2 separate regions of the Homo sapiens genome follow, and region 1 is linked to region 2. The links come from fine-mapping of genetic effects on gene expression. Tissue or cell type: testis. Region 2 holds a variant in brackets; the other region holds the start of a gene. All regions are shown on one strand. Distances are between the middles of the regions.

Region 1 (8,103 bases), 38 kb after region 2:
GCCACTTATTCTTTGACTCTACTACAGCCCAAATTCTAAAACTGAACTGGTTCATTTTTTGTGGTATGGTATCTTGTAAGAATTATGAAGCGATACCACCCAAAACAATTTCACAAGCCTGCAATTTTAGGTATGCAAAACAGGTTTTTACTTTTTAACGCACCAGGCAATAAACTTCATCCCCAATGTGGCAGTACTGACAGGTGAGGCCTCTAAGAGGGGAATGGGTCATGAGGGCTCTGCTCTTATGAATGGATGAATCCATTCATGGGTTAATGAATTATCATGTGAAGGTAACTGGTGGCTTTACAAAAGGAAGAGAGACCTGAGCTAGTGCCCCTGCATTCTCAGCCCCCTCACCATGTGATGCCCTGAACCACCCTGGGACTCTTTCAAGTCCCACCAGAAAGAAGGCTCTCACCAGATGCGGCCCCTCCACTTTGGCCTTCCCAGACTCCAGAACTTTAAGAAATAAATTCCCTTTCTTTATAAATTACCCAGTTTCAGGTTTTCTGTTAAAAGGAGCAGAAAATGGCTAAGACAGTAGGCAAGGCTGATGCACCCTAAGGAAACTAAGGCCCTGATAAGTTTGTTTTTAAATGGGGGAGCCAGGCTTCTAACTGTTTTGTTTTTCTTTAATCTTAGGATTGGTACTCTATGACCCTTATAATATTTCTGGCCTTAGTCTTCAGTACAATTAAAAAGTATGGAGATCATACAGCTTCTAGCACTTGGACTACAAGTGGGGACAAAAAGACAATTTGTATAAAACTACAGCTCTTCTCCATGGTACTAAAACTATCTGCAAAGAAAACCAAGCAGAATGATAACAAACACTACCTTTTATCTCTAGATTTATCCAGCCTTCCTCACCATTACCATTAACAGCCCAAAACAGAGATACCAGTTTAAACTATGGCTGTCAAAGACATTAAGTTGCCCTTCAAAACAGGAAAAAACCCATTTGTAAATTACCTAAATATTTCTATTTACCTACATATTGACCACTCCTCTCCAAATGAAAAAGAATTTGAGCCCGTAGGTGTGTGAATGGGGGATAATCAGAACTTCTGACAACACAGAAGATATATGCTTATATTACCTTCTTAACATATTTTACAACCAAAATGTCTTGGCTTTGATTCTGAACTATCATATGAGCCAGACAAGTATTTATGAAGTAACATCTAAAACCCAAAATCTACACGGGTTTTAAGGAGCACATATTTTATCAGATGACATCCTCTTCCTCCTGCAGGATAGGATATTGCTCAACACTAGTAACACCATTTAATGATTACGAAATACTCAGAAAAAGTTGACAGCCATTGCATAATAAGTGTCCTAGTCTTTTAGCCTCTGCCTTATTAGCAAAACAAAAACCCAGAGCAATCATCTTCCCTTGTACAAGAAGAGTAGAGATCTGCATGATGAGCAGTGAGCACCTGAAGAAGAGGTTCTAGGAAAAAAGCAAGGAGAAGATTCCTATTTTGACTTTTTGCAGGGCTGGCTCTGCTTTATGATATAAGAAACTTAAGGCCAGTTGATCTAGGGTCTCAAGAAAAATGGAGATGACCAAATTCAAAATACATAGCACCCGAAAGCTCTATGTATGTTGTTGAATCTTTTCTTTTAAGAGAAAATCAAGTTTTCATTCCTTGTGACTTCAGAAATTCAACTAAAATGCTCAAGATAATTTCCTAATTTCAAGCCTGAATATGTTTTCCATTTCTTTTAAAAGTCCTATAATCTTGAAGCTATTTTTTAAAAGGATCTAATTTGTACAGTGGAACTGTCAACATTACTCCATTTCTTCATTCAAAAAACAAAGCTTTTTGAGTTTAAATGCAAGTTACACAATTACAAGGCACATTCTATGTGTCAGGCACTGTGCTAGGCAGTGGGGACACAAAAAGGATCTCTGACTTCTAAAGGTTCAGTGTGAAGCTTTAGGCTGGGCACAGCAGCTCACACCTGTAATCCCAGCACTTTGAGAGGCCATGGCGGGCGGATCTCTTGAGCTCAGGAGTTGTAGACCAGCCTGGGCAACATGGGGAAATCCCATCTCTACCAAAAATAAAAAATAAAAATTAAAAAAAATTAGCTGGACGTAGTGGTGTCCGTCTGTAGTCCCAGATACTTGAGAGGCTGAGGTGGGAGGATCGCTTGAGCCTGAGATGTGGAGGTTGCAGTGACCTGAGCTCACACCACTGCACTCCAGCCTAGGCAACAGAGTGAGACCCTGTCTCAACACACACACACACACACACACACAATAACTATAATTACATGTCCCCTTAAATGATAACATCAATCAATTCACAAAAAATTACAATCAATTTACAAAAATTAAGAGGTTGGCTGGGCGTGGTGGCTCATGCCTGTTATCCCAGCACTTTGGGAGGCCTAGGTAGGCGGATTGCCTGAGCTCAGGAGTTCGCCACCAGCCTGGGAAACACGGTGAAATCCCGTCTCTACTAAAATACAAAAAATTAGCCGGGCATGGCGGCGTGCGCCCGTAGTCCCAGCTACTCGAAAGGCTGACGCAGGAGAATTGCTCGAATCTGGAAGGCGGAGGTTGCAGCGAGCCTAGATCGCGCCACTCTGCACTCCAGCCTGGGTGACAGAGCGAGACTCCATCTCAAAAAAAAAAAAAAAAAAAAAACCCACAAAAATTAAGAGGTTAATCAATATTTACTCAGAAGCAATTAAAACTTTTGAGTAGAATAAAAAATATGGCAAAATAAGAAGATATTCAAATGCTGTTAGTTGTTAGCCTAAGTATGATATCATTTATGCTTTTTAGAATAACACGGATATATAAGTGAAACTCAACTCGACCGGGCATTTCAACTCCCTGCTCTGATTCCACCCATGTTCACAATCTATCCACTGAATTATTCGAGCAAGGAGTTTAAATGCAAGTTACACAATTACAAGACACATTCTATGTGTCAGGCACTGTGCTAGGCAGTGGGGACATAAAAAGGATCCCTGACATCTAACAGTTGAGTGTGAAGCCCTATGCTACAACAGTTTTGTCAAGAATAACGTCTGGAAAAATCCCTCAGCAACTGGGTAAGTACGTACAAACCATGGAGAAATCATATTCATCTCTCTTAAAGGTTTACAATCTTAATCATGGAGTACTCTTTAAACAACGTTATTTCAGTTGATATTCTCTGAATTGACACTGAATGATTAATTATATGGAAACTGACTACTGCACCTTTATAACCTTTTTTGAGAGGCACCACTAATGTCTATCTGTTCTACCCAAAGAAAGGCAATGCATACAAACGCAATTAATAAAAGAGAATTTGTAATTCGTAGGTATAAATTTATTGCCAAGGTTTGCATAAGAATGCAACATCTGCCGATTTCCTGAAGTAGCTACTTCAGCTCAGATAAGTCCCAACATACATTTTCTAATTCGAACAATTCCCAGTTACTGTAAAAGGCACATCTCAGCAATCCACCGAATCAAATGTTTTCCTTTTTCTTCACACTGCAGTGCTATCACATGACCCAGTGACAGATCAGGATGTGGATTAGTCAGGCTTCAGATCGCCCAGACTAACACCCTTCATCTGAAATCCTTTTTAATCAGTCGGCCACCTAGAGACAGACACTCTGGCAATTAACCAGTGAAAATGCAGTCTCACCACCTGGGGAAACATCATGTGCTTTTCCCAGTTTTTTAAAAAGTCTATTTCGAGGGCTCATTGCCAGTTCCGAAGAAAGCTGTGAAGAAGTTGGATGCTACACAACTGCATTCTCTAGTAATCAAGAACCATTTCTTTTGGAATTGCTGAGCTATCCACTTAAACCTAGTTCATTAAGGCCTTTTTATTTAAAAAATCACAACATTTAAACAAGCCTATGCACACACACCACCTATGGGCAAAGCCACCTGGCTTCCCCAAAGAACCCTGCACTCAACCAAGTTTGGTTAACTGGTCAGTAAATGAAGAGGCAACGGTAGAAAAAGGCCCAGCGAGAATTTAAGAACCTGGATTTTTAGTCCCTGCTCTGCCAATAATTAAGTGTCTGAAGCATGGCAAATCCTACCCCTTCCAGAACCTTAGGCTTCTCACCTGTAAAATGATAGGGTTGGACTGGATGACCTGCAAGGTACTTTTCAGCTCTAGCGTTCTCTGATATCTAGGTGTCCTTCTGCGGAGCAGCCCCTCCACCAAACACCAAGCCACATCTCCCTCTGGCTACTGGCCTGACCTCCATCCACGAAAGGCCTGACCACGTCAGCGAAGGCTCTACCGTCTGCCCTCCGCAGGAGTTGAAGACCCCATTGAGGTCCTCACCAGGGGGAGGGGAGAAGGGGCGTTCCCTCGACCCCTAGATATCCAAATGAAGTCAGGGGAAGATTAAGATCGGAGTGGCAAGAAGTGGCCCTCGGGGACGGGAAGCAAGTGCCTAAGAAGGCTCCAGCCTAGGGAAGCTGGGGAGGGGAGGGGGTAGGGCAACAGCCAGGAGCCCACCAACCCCAGGAAAAAGTTCCCGCTGGTGCTCTTGCCCTCAGCCCATCTCCTGGAAATATTAGGTACAGGCAAATCTCCTTCTAAAGAGACAAGTGGGTCAGGGTCGGAGGGGAGACGCGGGAGGGAAAAACAAATCCTACCCCCTACCCGCTGGCTAAGCAGGTGACTGGGAGCAAAGGGCTAGGCTAGGGAGCAAAGACCGGAGACGTATTACTCTCTGATACTCACTGAGGCGAGGCTGGGAGAGGTAGTTCCGACTGACTGCCAGCGCCTGCTCCCGAGCTCCCACCGCCGGCCCACCGGTGGGCACGGGTAGCTCGGGTGCGGCCCCGTTGACAATCCCCCGCATCGCCCGCAGCGCCATCTTGTCTCCTCTGTCCCGACTGGCCCAGCAGCGACGCCGCGCACGCGCAGATATACCAAGGCGGCCCGCGGCCCGAGGCTCCGCCTATGCGCGCTGCGGCGCCCCGGCCTCGCCCCGCCCCCTTCGCCGCCGGCCGCCCCCAGCCTCGTGACTTCGCGCCGCTGGGGCCAGACCTGCTTGCGAGCAAGAGGAGCTGACCAGCGTGCTGGGAGGCGCGCGCGGGCGCAGAGGGAAGGGAAGCGAAAGAGGGGAGATGGAAGGAGAGAGGAAAGCCAGCCGAAAGAGAGGCGCACAAGCGGAGTGAGGGGAGGAAGGCAAACGCGTGCAGGCCAACGTCAGCTGATATCCATTTCGAATGGGCTTTCGTGACGCTGAATGGAGAGAACTCAAGCTGTGAAAACCGCTTTGAAAAACAGAAGCAATGGAAAACATGTTTCAGTGATTATTAACACATGTGGCATCATTTAGTTCACTTTACTCCCTACCCAATTCGTTCACGCATGTATCCATTCGACAAACATATATTGGCTTGTTATAGGATGTGCGTAGCGGTGTGAAAAATAGGGGCAGATTTGGAAGCTGTGTAAGGGGTGGGACTAGTGTAGGATGACAGCCCAGGCTGGAGGCCGGAGCAATGGAATGGATTCTTCTTCTTCTTCTTCTTCTTCTTTTGAGAGGGAGTCTCATTCTGTCGCCCAGACTGGAGTGCAGTGGCGTAATCACGGCTTACTGCAACTTCCGCCTCCCGGGTTCAAGCGATTCTCCTGCTTCAGCCTCCTAAGTAGCTGGGATTACAGGTGCCCACCGCCACGCCCGGCTAATTTTTGTTTTTAGTAGAGACGAGGTTCTACCATGTTGGCCAGGCTGGTCGCGAACTCCTGACATCAATTGATCCCGCCGTCTTGGCATCCCAAAATGTTGGGATTACAGGCGTTAGCCACTGCACCCAGAAGATTATAATTTTTAAGTTTAACTAATGTCCAAAGTTGGCACGTGTAAAATTAAACAGGAATTGTAATACTTTACTGATAAGAGCACAATTGGTATGATATTTAGAAGAACAATTTGGTGATATCTCATTCAAATATTTTGGTACTAGGAACTTATCGTTCTCTCTCTCTGTAGATATATCTGTATCTATCTATCCACTCAGTGTATGTGACAAATATTTTCCATTATATATAATACATTACGTCATGCACCATATGGTATATATTATTATATATGGTCTACAGACATATACATGTATATATACATACACACAGATATTCAAAAAAAATTTTTGTAATAGCATAAACCTAGAAACAATCTAAATGCCCATTCATAAGTTATAGCCTATTAAGTCAAAGGTATTTCTCAAACTTTTGAAAAGAATTCAGTGGAGGCTCAAGGGTTGAGTTTTTTTTTTTAAAAAAAGTCCAAGACACATTATTAGGTTTAAAATAAAAAAGCAATTGCAAAATGCCATGTAAAGTAGATTAACATGTGAACAGTAGGAGAAATTTTATTTTTAATTTAATAATCTTTCTATGTAGTTTCACTGCTTTAACAGGTGTTTGTACTGATTTTTTCAAATACAATGCATAACAACTTTTTTAATAAAAATTACAAATCTAGTCTTCTCATGCCAATTTTTCACAATGGTAGGTAAATTTCATATGTGAATATCAGACTGTTAGTTGTTACAATTTTTATGTTATTCTTTTAGGAGTAGTTCATGGCTTTTACTTTAAAAAAAACCTGTTTTTAACTTTTTACTCTGGTAATAGAAATTAGTTGTGGTCTAATGTGTATACGTAGAGTGGTAACCCCAACATTTATTTAACAAACATCTGTTGAGAAAATGCACATGTGTATCGGGTGCTGATCTAAGTCCTGGAGATATATTTGTAAATAAACAAAGACTCTGTCATCCTGATACCTGTTGGAGGGAGAAAGTCAGAAAACAAACATGTAAATAAAGTGCCTGGTAGTGTCAAGTATGATGAAAAATAATAAAACAAGATAAAGAGAAAAGAGTGATCTAGACGAAGATAAGATTTTAGATGATGTGATCAGGGAATGCACTTCTCAGTCATCTGAGATCTGAATGGAGAGAGAAAGCAGATCATGGGAAGCTCTAAGAGATGTGTGGCATAGGCAGAGGGTTTTGCAAGTGCCAAGGTCCTGAGGCAGAAGAAGGAAAGTGGGGCTAGAATGGACACAGCTAAGCAGAGAGCAGCAGGAGAGAGGGCAGGGCCAGATCATGTACAGCTTTGGAGGCTATGCAGATAGCAGTTCGAATTATATTCTTAGAGTGATTGTAGAATTTTATGAAGGAGGAATATGATCTGATTAGGCTTTAAAGAGGCATGTTGTTCTACTGGGCAAAATATGAACTGGTGAAGAAGGCAAGAGAAAAATGGAGAGACCAGTTAGGAAGCTATTGTGATTGTCTGGGTGAGCAACATGGACTCAAACCAGATGATGGCTTTCCTACATAGCACGCTGGCCTTAGCTCTGTCACAGAGCTCATCGCAATAATGATATCATTAAAAAGTGGCCATTTATATCTTTCTCCTGCACTTTTCCATTCTGTAACCTCAGATATGGAATGGGGGATTGGCAAGGGGGATGTGGAGCACAGTGCAGCTGGGAGAAATATTTCAAATGAAAAAAACAATGATAGAGATAAGTCCAAGATTGCTGTAAAACAGGGATTATTAACTTGGCACCCTAGGAAGTCGGTGAAACGTTGTGCAAAATGTGTGCATATGGATATTTTCCGTGGAAATAACCCACAGATTTCTATCACATTGTCAAAGGAGCCTGAAACTCTTAAAGAAAACCACCAAGTAAGCATCACTGACAAATTGGGAGAGTGGTATTGCCATTTATGGAATCACAAGTGTTTAATCAAATTGCCACATGGTTGTGTCAGATAGTTGGTATCACTTGACACCGTCTCTAACTTCTCAGACAACTACATTTTTAAAAATTGTGTAATTTATTTGGATCTTACGATGGTACCTGTGCAAAGCGCAGGTAACCCAAAACTGTTAGTCAACTGAAATTCAGAGTTTCTTAGAATTATTTATAGCAATATTATATAAATGCTTTTCCTTGGGTTTAAAAAAATTATCCCCTTAATATGCAAGAAGGAAAAGGATAAATGAAGTGTTATATACATAGAAAAATACATTTAGGAAAATATAGAAAAGTTTTAGTTTCTCTAGTAATGAAGAAATTCAAACTAAGCAT
Region 2 (8,107 bases):
CAGGCGTGGTGGCACGCACCTGTAAACCGAGCTACTCAGGAGGCTGAGGCAGGAGAATCGCTTGAACCCATGAGGCAGAGGTTGCAGTGAGCTGAGATCGCGCCACTGCACTCCAGCCTGGGCAAGAGAGCGAGACTCTGTCTCAAAAATTAATACTAATAATAAATAAATAAATACATAAATAAATAAATTGCTTAAACTCTCTGGGCTTCAGAGGGTTGTTTTGACAATTATATGAGATAATGCTCAATAAAAGTTAAAGCATTGCTACTGTTTATTATGACTACCACAATTTAGTGACATGATACTTATTAGTATTTGTTAACAAAATGTCCCTGCTTCAAGCCAAGATGAGTTACAGTGGTGCCCCAAGCTCCCTTGGCCTGGCGAAGCTCTACCCCGTGGAAACAACAGATCTTACTCTGATGAGCTACCTCCCCAGCTCCCTGCAACCTTTTCTCTCCAGGTTTCAATACCAGAAGGCTGCCTTATGGGGGTATGCCCCTGGGACCGAGGGCACAGCCGGAGGAAAGAAAGGAACAAGGAGGGATTTGCTGGGGGGTGTGGTGAAGGGCTGGGCCGGGCCACCCTGTGACTGTGACACTGACCAAAACCCCCGGCCGAAATGGAACTGGTTAAAATCCTTATTCACTACCTTTGGCACCTCTTTCCCTCTCCCCCCTCTCTCAGCTCTGCCACATAGTGCCAGCCTGAGCGTATACGCATGCACACACACACACACATGCACACGAGCATGCACACATGCAGCCCCCCCACCTCGTTCTCCTTCTGCCCCTTGCCCCCCACTGCCTCAATTACAGCTAATTGAGAGGTAAATAGGCTCATGACAGCAGTTGTAATCAGTGACAGGTGAAGCAAATTAAATTTCTTACACCAAAAATAACAGGACGATTTGCCTGCCACGGCCCGTCATTCAGATGGCCCCCTCTTGGGTTGCGGGGGCCGTGAACACATAGCCTGCGGGTTTCAAGGTCCAGGGTTCCCTTTGCTTGACTGGTTTTCCAGGCAGACTCCAGGGACTCAGCAAAGCAAGCTGGGGGTGGCGGGTATTATCCATACCAAATAGAAAGGAAGTGCCCTGGAGTCCCTGGAATTGACTGGGCTGGGTGCTGGCTGACTTCTCAATCCTGTCACTTGCATTTAACCCTCACAGCAGCCCTGCATTCTACACTGTCCTGTGCACAGTGGATAGTCGCAGCCCCAGGCCTGACTGTGGCCAAGGCACAAGCTCTTGGTCTGCTGCTGGGTTGCCTCCTCCTCCCAGCCTTGCTACAGCTGTGGACAGAAGTCACAGTGGTGGTCAGGGTCACCTTGCTGTCCTCCCACACTATGCATCACAGTGGCCCAGCTCTCCTAGGCCACCGTTTCTTCTGGCCCCTGAAAAACACCCATCTGAGCTGGGAGGTGCTTGGCCTGCTCTGCTCACCTGGATTGCTGCCATGCTGGAGCAGGGGGGTTGCCTGGGACCCGCCCACCCCTCGGAAAGAGGAAAGGAGTGGCCTGAGCGCCACTGCCCACTGTCAACCTCACCTGCCTCCTTCATCAGCTTCCCAGGCCCCTCCCTTGTGAAGCAAATGCTTTCCAGGGAAATTCTGGCTCCAGCCTTCATCTGGCTGGGCCTCCAAGACTATACTTAGAAAGTGGGAGAGGACACAGGCGTGCCAATGGGCCAGCTCCAGGGAGAGCTGGCATCACCCAAGACTCATGCTGCAGAAAACCAAAGGCAAGTCCCCCACTCAAAGTCCCGCTCCCGCCACCCAATCTGGTTACCCCCTGCCTCCCCCTGCTTCCTGAGCCCAAGAGCAGTGTACGCGCTCAGGCCCAATTTCCTGCTGCTGCCTTACAATATTATAGTTTGATAGAGGATTTTCCTACTTATAGACTCCCAAAGGGTATAGCTATATCAGAAAAGGAAAAAGCGTATCAAGCAAATGTGCTTTTCCTGTACACACACACACACACACACACACACACACACACACACACACACTGCTCTTTTTCTCTAGCTTCTAGATGTCTTTTAAACTTAGGGCTTCAGAGGTGTCTGTGTGTGTGCATGCATGTGGTTTTGTGTCTGTGTATGTACGTGTGTATGTATGTGCATGTGTACGTGTGTATGCGTATATGTATAGCTGTGCATGTGTGACTCTATGTATGTGTGCATGTGTATATATGGGGGTGAGTGTATGTGTGCATGCATGTGTATGTCTGCATGTATATGTGTGACTGTGCGTATGTAAGTGCATGCATGTGTGTATGTGTGGGTGTGAGTCTATGTATATATATGTTTATGCATGCATATGTTTATGTAAATTGTGTGCATATATGGGGTGGGTTGAGTGTATGTATGTGAATGTGTATGCGTATATATGTATATGTGTATGTGTGTATGTATTGTGTGTATCTGTGTGTATACATAGGGGTAGGTGTGAGTGTGTGTATGTGTATTATGTGCATATCTGTGTGTATATGTGTATATATCTGTGTGTATGTGTGTACGTATGTATATGTATATGTGTATGTATGTGTGTGGGGTGACAGGTGTGAGAGTGTATGTGTATGTATGTGTATATCTGTGTGTATATATATGTATGTGTGTATGTGTGTATTTGTATATGTGTGTATACATGGGGGTAGGTGTATGTATGTACATGTATGTACATGCGTATCTGTGTGTATGTGTGTGTATATCTGTATAGGTATATGTGTATGTGTGCGTGTATAAATGGGGGTAGGTGTGCCTGTATGGTGTATGTGTATATATGTGCATATCTGTGTGTATGTGTGTATATATATGTATATGTGTGTGTATGTATTTGTGTGTGTGTATACATGGGGGTAGGTGTGTGTGTATGTGTACATATGTGCATCTGTGTGTGTATATATGAATATTTGTGTGTATGTGTGTATACATGGGGGTAGGTGTGAGTGTGCGTGTGGGTATGTGTATATGTATGTGCATACCTGTGTGTGTATATGTATATGTGTGTATGCATTTGTGTGTGTGTGTATACATGAGGGTAGGGGTGTGTGTGTGTGTGTGTGTGTGGATGTGTGGATGTGGGTGGGAGGGGCTGAAGGGTGTCCGCATATGGAAGGTGCTGCTTTCCTTCCATTCTTTCGTTTTATCCCCACCCCCACGGGCACCAGGGCACCTGCTAACCTCCCAGAAGTGCCTGTGATGCGGATGAGGACTCAGGGCGCAGACCTGTCTGAGGGAAGAAGTTTCCGGGCGCAGACCTGTCTGAGGGAAGAAGTTTCCGGGTGCAGACCTGTCTGAGGAAAGCTTTTCTGGCTACACCTTGGGGAAGACCTTGGGGAAAAGAAGTCAGAAGGATGGGTAGAGAGGTGAGTTCACCACGGGGCAGTCACAACGGAGGGCTCAGCTGCTCCTCACCCGGGGTGAGATGAGAGGGCTAGGCCTTGACGTCCCCACCCTTACTCCAACCCCACACCCAGCCAGTGCCTGGGCCCCCTCCCCAAGCTGGGATGGATGTGTGCCTGGGCCAGGGCAAGCCTCAAAGAGGGACGCAGCTCTGCACTCTCAACAGCTGGGGAGTGAAAGCCTCACCCTAGAGGGGAATTCGGGTCACCCCCGAGTCCCCCCACGCCCTCCTTTCTCTCCCCTCTTCTCTGCACTCATCATTGCCACGCCCCCGGCCTCTGAACCCTGCCCCACAAACCAAAGCCTAATGGATGTGGCAGAGTCTCTCACCAGTCCCCATCCCCCAAGCCCTCCATGGATGGCACTAAAACCAAACCTCACATCCCGGGCCAAGCTGCAGCATGGGCTACATTCACGCACCTCCTCCTGCCCCACAGCCAACTGTGTAGACATTTGTGGACACTCGCCGCCAGGAAGCAAACTGTCGGGGAGAAGGAACCTTGCTTGAATGTCTCCCATGTGCCTTGGCGTCCAGCCAGAGTCTGGGCTGGTGAGGGAAGAGGGCTAGAGCGGAGGTGGCTGCTTGTAGTTGTTCTGTGGGTTGCCCGAGAGCCAGCTCAGCTGTAGGTGACCCCTGACAGGTGG[C/A]CCCATCTTACCCTTCAATGCATCGGCCCCAGAAGCCAACCCAGCACCCACTGGCCCCCGGAGGTGCTCAGTACGAGGGCAGGAAGGGCTCTGGATGGGGAGTCAGACTTCCTAGGAGTTCGAGGCCAGTTCTCCCAGTTGGCCTTGAGCAAACCCCTTGACCTCCAGGGGCCCAGCTCCTCCTACCCACAGGGTCATGGTGATCCAGAAAGGACTTGGGCTGCCTGGTGAGGCCATTCTAGGCAGTAAATGACAGAGAAAGCGGCTGTTTCTAGGCTACCGTACTCGACAGAGAGAAGAGACGAAAGACTTGCGACCATGGGGGAGGTGGCCATGAGAGCTGAGGGCTTTCCCTGTCACAGCCCAGTGAGGCACACGGAGGCCGTGAAGACCCCCAGCACCCTGGGGGTGGGGGGAGCCGGGAGCAGGGTTAGCATGAGATGGGGTTCCTCCTGCTTTATGTCTCCCTGAAGGGCAGGCACAGTGACGGGCCCTGTTATCTCTCAGAGGCCCTGAGAGGAAGGGAAGCCAGCAACGCCTGCCCTGTGGGGAGAGAAGGGGTGGTCTTTGCGTCCAGTCCAATCTGTCCATCTAGGGATGGGGTCTCAGGGCACTGGTTACTCCTTAGTCACTTCGGGGCTTAATTACAAGGAGTGGGGGTGGAGGAGGGAAATGGGGAGTGGGTGAGGGGTGCGAGCCCTGGGGCTGGTTATCGCAGCCATGCTTCAGGGTGGCATCACACCATAGCGAGATCCTTGTGATGCTTTGCCACAAAGTTCAGGGGTCTGTCAGTTTCCTAGGGCTGCCATAATGAGTTACACAGACCACGTGGCTTATAACAACAGTAATTAATTCTCTCCCAGTTCCAGGGGCTGAGAGTTCAAGATCGAGGTGTTTGGTCCAGGGCTCCGTTCCCCCAGAAGGCTCCAGGGGAGATTTCTTCCTCGCCTCTTTCAGCTTCTGGTGGCCCCAGGTGTTCCTTGGCTTGTATTCACATCACTCCCATCTTCGCCTCTGTCTGCATGGCTATCTCTTCCCTGTCTCTGTGTCTTTATGCGGTGTTTCCCCCTCTGGGTCTCTCTTCTTATAAGGACACCAGTCCTATTGGATTAAGAGTCACTTCCTCTTAACTAATTACATCTGCAATGACCCTATTTCCAAACAAGGTCACATTCTGAAATCCTGGGAGTTAGGACATCAACATGTCTTTTGCGGGGACACAATTCAATCCGTTAAAAGGGGCACTGGGAGGACTGAGATTCAAGAGTGCAAGCACAGGTTTGGGACTTGCTAAACGCCCGAGTCCCTCCTGCTCCGTCCAGACAGGGGCAAACCCCATGAAAAGGAGAGCTGCCAGACGGGGGAGGGTCCCGGGGAGTGTCTAGCGAGTGCTCGTGAACTCCGAGAGGTTGTTTAAACCGCCCTCTGTTAAGAAGGGGGTGGGGCCCGGGTGGGTAACTCACTCAAAGCAACATGATTTTCCCCAGAATAGACCCAGGTCCCAAGAGTGGGGCACAGGGGCCCGTCCCCCTTTGAAGTGCAAATGCCGGTCCCTGGGTGCAGCCCTCCCAGAATAATCAGTGTCTTGCATCTGCTGCCCCGCCTGAAGTGCGACCTGCCAGCTGCTCTCGTTCTCTGGATGCCCCACTGGCTGAAGTCAGGTGGCTGGAAGGATCAGGCCCCAGGCAGACCCGGTAATCAGCACTTAGCAGGGAGGGGGAATTAAGAAAACAGAGTGTTTAATGTGCTGGGTGGCAGCTGCGGTTCCGCTCCCATTTGCTTAGATACCTGCTGTCCCCGCTGGGCCCTGGGTGGGGGGAGGGCGGCACGAGCAGCCCTTTGTTTAACAGCAGCTCACTTACAGGAGCCCCAGGCTGTTGGGCAGGTCGCAGGAGGAGGATGGGACATTTGGTGGTTTTGATAATGATCAGCAGTGACCTTGGTGATAAAGATGCTTAGCGCCAGGCTCCCCTGTGACAGAGAGTCCCAGCTGGCTGCTCTAGGGTCACCCATGAGGCTCCACCTTAAAATCCAGAGCTTCTCCACAAGAGAAGTCAAGACCAACACCATAAACAGGAGGATTCTGTTCTAAAAGCTGGGGTTTGGGAACCAGACGGAGCAGGAGCAGCTATGGAGACTGGTGGTGAGACCTAGCGTGCCGTCGGACTTTGGTTATCTAGCCCAAACCTCAGTTTTCTCATCTGTGAAACAGGAATCAGTCGTTACAGGGTGGGCATGAGAAAGTGTATGTAAAACACCTGTCAATAATATTCAACGTACTCTTTCCTCGCTAAGACCTCTAGAAAGGGTTAAGTCCTGGCACCTGTCCCCCCAAAAAAGGGGTAAGGTCAGGTGAGAGAAAAACACCAGGTAGCCCCCTCCAGGCCTCCTGATGCTCAGACCTTGCTCAAGAAGGGATGGCTTCCTTCTTTCTTCCTCCCTCCAACCCCTTTATCTGTCCCTTCTCAGCCGTGACCACATTACCTCTTGGGCTACCTGCCTCTTTTAGGGCCCTAGTGGGGCAGATCTATCTCGGCTGAGATAAAACAAGGCCAATCTAAACAGCTCCTAGGCTGAGCAAGACAGCCTGAAATTCAATGTTCGCTGAGTGAGTGCTCTGGACATTCGACCACCAGTGAACAAACCCCCAGCACTGGCACCCGGAGCCTTGGGTCTACAGGCCCAGCCAGAGTGGGGGAAGGTGGGCTCGGACATGCAAAGCTGCCACCTGGGGGTGATGCCCAGGGCTGCCTTCTCCAGAGCTTCTCCTTGGAGGGGACAGAGCTGTGCCCCTGAGACTCTAGAGCCCACAGGGAAAGGCCTTCTGGGGCTGCTACCTGCTCCTTATGCCTTTCTGGGCCCCTCAGGGACATCAGTCCTGACGTGCCGCAGGGAAGGCCCCGTGGCTCTGAAGAGAAGGCATTGGAATAGGAACTATATTCCTTTGCTCGGGTGGGCTACTGTAACCAAGAACCACAGGCCAGGTGGTTTCAACAACTGAAATATATTCTCTCACAGTTCTGGAAGTCTGAAAATCAAAGTGTCAGCAAGGTTGGTTCCTCCTGCAGGCTGTGAGGGAGAATCTATTTCCTGCAGCTCTCCCAGATTCCAGTGGTTTGCTGGCAACCTTCAGCATTCCTTGGCTTGTAACTGCATCACTCCAATCTTCACACAGGGCGTCTGTCTTCCCATGGCCGCTTTTAAATAAGGACACCAGTCATATTGGATTAGAGGCCCACCCTACTTCAGTGTGACCTCATCTTAACTAATATCTACAATGACCCTAGTTCCAAATAAGGTCACATTCTGGGTACTGGGGGGTTAGGATTTAAATACATAGTTTTTGGCAGGGGACACTACTCAACCTGGACTTAAGTGTAGAGTAGGATTTGTTTGTTTTGAAGACAGAATCTCGCTCTGTCACCAAGGCTGGAGTGCAGCGGTCTGACCTCGGCTCACTGCAACCTCTGTCTCCTGGGTTCAAGCAATTCTTGTGCCTCAGCCTCCCAAGTAGCTGGGATTACAGGCGTGCGCCACCATGTCCAGCTAATTTTTGTATTTTTAAGAGAGACGGGATTTCACCACGTTGGCCAGGCTGGTCTCAAACTCCTGACCTCAAGTGATCCACCTGCCTCAGCCTCCCAAAGTGCTGGGATTACAGGAATGAGCCACCACGCCCGGCTGGATTGTGACCAAAGAAGTAGCACCCTCCTGATATTTGCTCTCCTAAATCTAGGGCAAGAGAGCTTTCCAGTATGACTTATTTGGGAGAAGACAAAAACGCTGGCGTGCTTGGGGCCAGGGCCTCTGGGGCAGGAAGGAGGCTGCCCTCCTGCATAATCGCTGTCTCTCCTCTGCCTGTGCACTGTGCTGGGAAGAATTAGGTCAGCCTTTGGGCTTTGCCATGAGGTAGCAGAAACTATTAAAAGCTGTCCTGTGAGCCGACTTAGAGCCCAGTGATTTAGCACGATTTGGAGAGAGGAGTGGCCTCACGCCTCTGCCTCATGGCTCTGCCTCTGGGGAAACCGCCCAGGTAAAGTCCACATGTATGCATCC

Direction of the effects. Positions count from the first base shown, and alleles are read on the strand shown. Sizes are in standard deviations (SD) of each study's normalised expression.
As copies of C replace A in region 2, the expression in testis of the gene that starts at base 4,889 in region 1 goes up (large effect, 0.82 SD a copy in GTEx).

Evidence for each region. PIP is the estimated chance that this variant, and not a neighbour inherited with it, causes the effect.
Region 1: it holds the start of ATP6V1B2, and the variant in region 2 is fine-mapped to the expression of ATP6V1B2 in testis (GTEx, PIP above 0.99).

What each region holds. Positions count from the first base shown.
Region 1 is chr8:20,194,167-20,202,269 of GRCh38, reverse strand. It overlaps ATP6V1B2 (ATPase H+ transporting V1 subunit B2), which reads right to left and starts at 4,889. Exons shown (of 14, transcript NM_001693.4): 1 at 4,728-4,889. The coding sequence starts at 4,863. RefSeq lists a silencer at 4,836-5,115.
Region 2 is chr8:20,232,338-20,240,444 of GRCh38, reverse strand. No RefSeq gene overlaps it. Among named protein-coding and RNA genes, the nearest start is that of ATP6V1B2, 39 kb to the right of the region's middle. RefSeq lists enhancers at 5,232-5,741, 5,742-6,251. The variant C/A (reference allele first, on the strand shown) is at 4,052.